Homo sapiens: one gene and its partner. The protein of the gene in region 1 purifies or fractionates together with the protein of each later gene. This does not show direct contact. Each region holds a gene or a part of one and is shown on either strand. Other genes may lie near its edges.

What was found.
Region 2: the proteins of PRM3 (region 1) and SSU72 purify together in Homo sapiens (affinity purification with mass spectrometry; one large-scale study listed by BioGRID and IntAct). This does not show direct contact.

What each region holds. Positions count from the first base shown.
Region 1 is NC_000016.10:11,272,678-11,275,313, reverse strand, and holds PRM3 (protamine-3), read left to right. Parts: upstream 1-1,684; 5' UTR 1,685-1,718; coding exon 1,719-2,030; 3' UTR 2,031-2,115; downstream 2,116-2,636. UniProt on the Homo sapiens protein: Protamines substitute for histones in the chromatin of sperm during the haploid phase of spermatogenesis. They compact sperm DNA into a highly condensed, stable and inactive complex.
Region 2 is NC_000001.11:1,547,156-1,550,969, reverse strand, and holds part of SSU72 (RNA polymerase II subunit A C-terminal domain phosphatase SSU72), read left to right. Parts: intron 1-3,814. UniProt on the Homo sapiens protein: Protein phosphatase that catalyzes the dephosphorylation of the C-terminal domain of RNA polymerase II. Plays a role in RNA processing and termination. Plays a role in pre-mRNA polyadenylation via its interaction with SYMPK.

The DNA of each region.
Region 1 (2,636 bases):
CACCTTGTGGCCATATTTAAATGCCTACTGTGTGCCACAGTTTAAAAACACAACCCATCTTGAGTGTTGGGTGGTTGGAAGTGTAAACGGTGGGGGCAGAGGTGGGGGCACTGCTCAGTGCAGGCCACAGCTTCGAGGTGGGAAACAGGTCTGGCATGCTCCAGCAACAACTTGGTCAGCACAGAGACGGCAAAAGGCAAGGAGTAGATGAATGCAGAGTAATGGGCTGCGCTGTGTGAGGCCTGTGCTGGCTGAAGCCTCTGGAGACCCAGGCAGAATCCGATCCTTGTTGCCTGCTCTCCTCGGCCTGTGGCTGCATCACTCCTCCCTCCTGTCTGAAATCAAGGACCCTTGTGATTGCACTGAGGGACTTTCTGGACAACCCAAGATAACCTCCCCATCTCACAATCCTTACATCATAGATTCCAGGATCAGGAAGGGGGCACTTCGGAGAGTGCCAACCTTAGCCAACCATAGCCACTGAGGACTGGGGGGATAAGACTGGCAAGATCCAATCCATATGTTGGCAAATGGATTTCTGGTGCTCAGAAATGACCAATCTTTAGGAAGCAACGAGTTTCTGAAAACAAAACAACAACAACAAAAAAAAAAACAGACGGAGTTTCGCTCTTGTCACTGGGGCGGTGTGCAGTGGTGCGATCTTGGCTCACTGCAACCTGCACCTCCTATGTTCAACTGATTCTCCTCCCTAACCTCCTGAGTAGCTGAAGGAGCTAAACAAATTTTTTTTTTTTTTTTTTTTTGGTATTTTTAGTAAAGACATGGTTTCACGATGTTGGCCAGGCTGGTCTCGAACTTCTGACCTCAGATGATCTGCCTGCCTCGCCTCCCAAAGTGCTGGGATTACAGGTGTGAGCCACCACGCCTGGCCTCAAAAAATTTATATTTAAAAAATACCATTGCAGTGTACAAACGACTCATTTCAATGTATAAAAGACAAAGTCCTAAACCCCCTCCCCCCATGCTGAAATTGTGCTGCACAGATGTGGAACCTTGCCAAGGGGCAGCTCCATGATGTCTTCTCTGTGGCCCCAAAACACTTAAGAGGATGTCACTCCACCCTGACCTGGGTAGAGTGGCCTCTGGTTGGTGGTGTCCATCTTGCATCAGTCAGGGACAAAGCAACCCCTTGTTCATCCCAGCTTGGTTTCTGGCCTGTTCCCATGCCTTGGACAAACAAACAATGCTTAGGAGCCATTGCCTTTCAAGAAGATTTCACACTTTCAGGCCCCCGAAGGAAGACTTCCAAGGGTTCCTGAGTTTTATGAGCTTACAGAGTGCATACATTTTAAGCACACAGCTTGATGATTTATTTCCAAGGGTTAACAGTCAAGAAACTCAACAGAGACAGCTCTCTCTGGCTGGCGATTTCTGGGATGTGGGGAGGAGTCTGTGTGTGCCCCTCCTGCTTCTAGAAATTCAATCCCTAACTCCCATCCCAGCTACAAGGGAAACTTTCTCCAGGGCAAATGAGGACTATGGTGTGGCATCCGAACTGGCCCCAGTGCTCAGCCTTGCAGACCTCCCCTGTGGGGGCTGGGAGCTGCCAGTGGCTGAGGTGTGAGTTAACTGTTGGCTCAGACCCAGGTTCCCAAGTGGGGATGGGCTCCCTTTGTGATGTCAGCATCCTGCCCCCACTCGCAGCCCCTTCACCCACCGCCTCACCTCCTTGCCCAGAGAGACAGGCAACGTAGACCATGGGTTCCCGCTGTGCCAAGCTCAACACAGGCCAGAGCCCAGGCCACAGCCCAGGCCACAGCACGGGCCATGGCCGGGGCCACGAATCCTCCATGAAAAAGCTCATGGCCTGTGTGAGTCAGGATAACTTCTCCTTGTCATCAGCGGGCGAGGAAGAGGAGGAAGAGGAGGAGGAGGGGGAAGAGGAGGAGAAAGAAGAGCTGCCGGTGCAGGGCAAGCTGCTGCTGCTGGAGCCTGAGCGGCAGGAGGAGGGCCACAAGGACAACGCCGAGGCCCAGCAGAGCCCCGAGCCCAAGCGGACACCCTCCTGACCCGCAACGAAGGCCCAGGAAGGGACGCCCACTGCTGCTCCGGCGACAGTGTTCAGAGAAGAGTCAATAAAAAGTCTCTGAGGAATCCTCCCTGTCTCTGGTTCCCCTCACCCTATCCCTTCTGGCCCCACGTGTGCACGTGTGTGAAGGCGTGTGTGTGTGGGTGCACACGGAGGGAGGCCAGCTGCCAAGGAAGGCTGAACAGCAAGGCTCGGTGACCTTGTTCCCAAGCCCCAGCCAGAGGTTGAGGGGCTTTGAGAGGGGGAAATCATCTCCGCCAAATCTTCCCATCTCTGGGACGGGAAATTCCTCTGCGAGTCCCAGCACACCCCAGCCGAGAGCATCCAGCGGGACAGGGTAACTGCCTTCATCGCAGTCCCCACTGTGCTGCCCCAACTATGGACCGTCTTTTAAGAACACTGGCTTGGGAGTTCAGCAGACCTGGGTTCAAACTTCTTTTCTGGTAGCTGCGTGCCCTTGAGCAAGTCACTGCGTGTCTTTGAGCCTCAGGCTGCCCCTCCCAGCGTTTAGGGGAAGCTAATAGCTACTCATGGGTCAGATGATCAGAAAAATTAGCTCAAGTGATGGGTGGGACCAGGCCTGGCA
Region 2 (3,814 bases), on another chromosome or scaffold:
TGTCCACAGCAGAAACCTGGGCCCAACTCAGTCCAGCTTAAGAGGAGGTCCTAGACCACGAGATGCCCCAGGGTCTGTGCACCTCCCAGGCCCAGCAGGGAGGGAGGGGCGTGTGGTGGGTGATGGTTCAGTGGAGTGAGTGGTGGGTGCAGCCTTCCTGCTGATGAACCACCAGGCCTTCCGGCCGGCACCAGTCCATGGTCCCTGGCTCCGGCAGGCTTGTCCTCCCTGGTGTGGTGCTTTGCTAAACCTCCGCCCTCCCTCCATCTTCCTCCCACAACAGAACAGTGTTGAGGCTCTGCCAGGCGAGATCACTGCCTCGTCCTGACTCCCTGGGCCCGGGACCATCCCTGGCAGGCACTTGAGGGGGGCCAGCAGCCTGGGGCCCGGGGCTCAAGGCCCCGTGGGGTCTGGCGAGAGGCAAGGGCCCAGGCACTGATTCTCTGAGTGCTGGCAAAGGGCCTGTGGTGTCCGCTGGTGTCTGGGAATTGCTGGAGGGTCAAAAGCATTAGGCTTAGCCAGGAAAGTCATGGTTAGGGTTAAACTCATGTCTGCTGAAAATTGCCTGAATTAAAATTGAACAAATGTGCCTTAACTCGAAAGAAAAGAGCAGACATTCAGAATAACACGTTGCCAAGAACCCTGAAGGGTGGCCCCTCTGAGGCACCAGCTACCCCCAGCCGGGCTGGCGTGGAGGATGGCGGGGGTTGTCTGCTGGTTGGGTGGCATGTGGACTTGTCTTGGATGCCATGATTTATATACATATATATATATATACTTTTTTTTTTTTTTTTTTGAGACACTCTCGCTCTGTCTCAGGCTGGAGTGTAGTGATGTGATCTCGGCTCATGGCAATCTCCCCTCCCAGGTTCAAGTGATTCTTGTGCCTCTGCCTCCGGAGGAGGCTGGAATCACAGGTGTGCACCACCATGCCTGGCTAATTTTTGTATTTTTAGTAGAGAAGACGGGGTTTTGCCATCTTTTTTTTTTTTTTTTGAGACAGAGTCTCGCTCTTGTCACCCAGGCTGGAGTATAGAGGCGCAATCTCGGCTCACTGCAACCTCCACCTCCTGGGTTCAAGCTATTCTCCTGCCCCAGCCTCCTGAGCAGTGGGATTACAGGCACCCGCCACCATGCCCGGCTAATTTTTTATATTTTTAGTAAAGATGGGGTTTCACCATGTTAGCCAGGATGGTCTCGATCTCCTGACCTTGTGATCCACCCGCCTCGGCCTCCCAAAGTGCTGGGATTACAGGCGTGAGCCACTGCGCCCAGCCATAATTTTTGTACTTTAGTAGAGTCAGGGTTTTGCCATATTGGTCAGGCTGGTCTCGAACTCCTGACCTCAGATAAGCCATCCGCCTCGGCCTCCCAAAGTGGTGGGATTATAGGTGTGAGCCACCATGCCTGGCTGCAGCCTTTTTTTTTCTTTTTCTTTCTTTTTTTTTTTTGAGACAGAGTCTCGCTCTGTCCCCCAGGCTGGAGTGCGGTGGTGCGATCTTGCTCACTGCAAGCTCCGCCTCCGGGTTCACGCCATTCTCCCGCCTCAGCCTCCTGAGTAGCCGGGACTACAGGCGCCTGCCACCACGCCTGGCTAATTTTTTGTGTTTTTAGTAGAGACAGGGTTTCCCTGTGGTAGCCAGGATGGTCTCGATTTCCTGATCTTGTGATCCACCTGCCTCGGCCTCGCAAAGTTCTGGGATTACAGGCGTGAGCCACCGTGCCCGGCCCCAGGCTGGTAATTTTTTATTTTTTGTAGAGGCAGGGTTTCTTTGTTGCTCTGTGTGGACAGAAAGCTTAGTTTGTTTCTCTGATGGTTAGTCCCCCACAGAATTTTAACGTGATTCTGTGTTGATGACACTTTCTGTTGCATGAGACAATATTCCAGATCTCTCTGGGTCCCTCCTGGATTCAAGGCATCCTCCTGCCTCGGCCTCCCGAGTAGCTGGGACCACAGGTATGTGTCACAGCCCAAGGCCTCCAGCACAAGCCTTATTCTCCCATCCCCAGACTCAGGAGGCCATGCAGCCACACACCGGGGGAGGGTTCCAGACGTCACTGTGGGACGGGAGTGACACCAACAGGGCAGGGAGGGCCAGGACATTGGCTCATGCTGGCCGGTGGCCTCTCGGGATTGGCCACACGTGCTCAACCCATGGGAATCTCACTCAAGGGTCTGATGGGCCTGCTCCTCCTGTTTACGCCAAAGTCCAGAAGGCCTCCGGGGGCGAGTGGGAGGACGCAGAGTGGGTGAGCGGAGCTACCTTCCTCACCGCGGTCCATGTGGAAGCCAGGGCAGGGGAGGGGCCTGCCCACTGCACCCACCCCCAGCACCCCACCCCGTGGCTGCCACATCTCACCTCTGGACAATTTTCTTGGCCCATCCTTGGGAGTTTTTTTTTTTTTTTTTTTTTTGAGACAGAGTCTTGCTCCTGTCACCGAGGCCAGAGTGCAGTGGCATGATCTCAGCTCAGTGCAGCCTCCGCCTCCTGGCTTCAAGCAATTCTCCTGCCTCAGCCTCCAGAGTAGCTGGGACTAAGGCGCCTGCCACGACGCCTGGCTAATTTTTGTAATTTGGTATAGATGAGTTTCACCATATTGGCCAGGCTGGTCTCAAACTCCTGACCTTGTGATCCGCCTGTCTCAGCCTCCCAAAGTGCTGGGATTACAGGTGTGAGCCACCGCGCCCAGCTGGGAGTTTATTTCTTAGATGTGTGTTAACTTCAGCTGAGGCTCCTGTGTGCCTCTGTTTCATGGCCTTCGGGTGTTGGCCGCCCTCTACTGAACGTGGTCCCTGAGGCCGCAGGGACTGTGCAAAGCCGGATGTCCAGGCCCTGGGAGTCCAATGGGGGCAGTCGATTCTATGGATGGCACATCCTCTTTGCCTGCCCTGCCCTGGGCCCTCTCTTGGCCCACTTTTCTGGGTACGTTTCAGGCCCTCATGCCCAGTTGGGGCCCTAGCATGGGTCAGGCCCTCCGCCTGGTGTCGCCTTCTTGCCCGGGCTGAGTCTTTGGTTTCTTTCTTTGTGGGTTCAATGTCGAACGCTTTGCGTCAGTGGGACTTCTGCAGGACCTGGGCGGCGCAGGTGTCCGGAAGATGGGACAGGTTTCTGTTCCGATGGCGCCTCTCTCCCCTTCCTCCCGCCCGGCAGTACTTAGGTTCTTCCTTCAGAAAGGATTTCCCCATGACTTGAAGAGCAGGCTCTCGCACGCAGGCCCGAAACCTGCTCAGCCTCCCCGTGGCCCTGAGCCTGTCTATTGAAGGCCCCGCCTCACCCGCCAGCGGCTCCTGTCCTCTCGCCTTGCTCTGAGCCTTTGCCTCGTGGCACTCACTGGCACCGTGGTTTTGCTGCCGGAATTCAGGTGGGATCTTGCGTCCCTGTGAGCTCATGGCTTGGTCTGTGGTCCCTTTGGTCCTCCTCAGGTCCTCACAGCCTCTGGTGGGGCTTGCAGGTCTAGCCCTCTGGGCGGGGCCTCACCTCGCATCTCCTCGCCAGGAGATCCAGAAGGGTGGCTGCTCGCTCATCCTTGTGTAGCTGAGGAGGCTGCTGCTTTGTCCCTGAAGTAGACATTTCTCCTTAACTGAATGATTCTTAATTTATTGCCTCATCTACATAAATAGTTGAGAATGACGTAAAGGAGGAAAGGACTTAGAACTGTCCAGGCCTCAGGGAAGAGCTGGCCTTGAACGTCCATGAGCTCTGCCAGCCAGTGACACCAGTCCCATCCCCAGGAGCCCCCACGGCCTCACCCCCGGCTGTGTCTTGCTCAGGGATGTGCAGGGAGGGTGATCCCTGTGCCCACCATGAAGCTG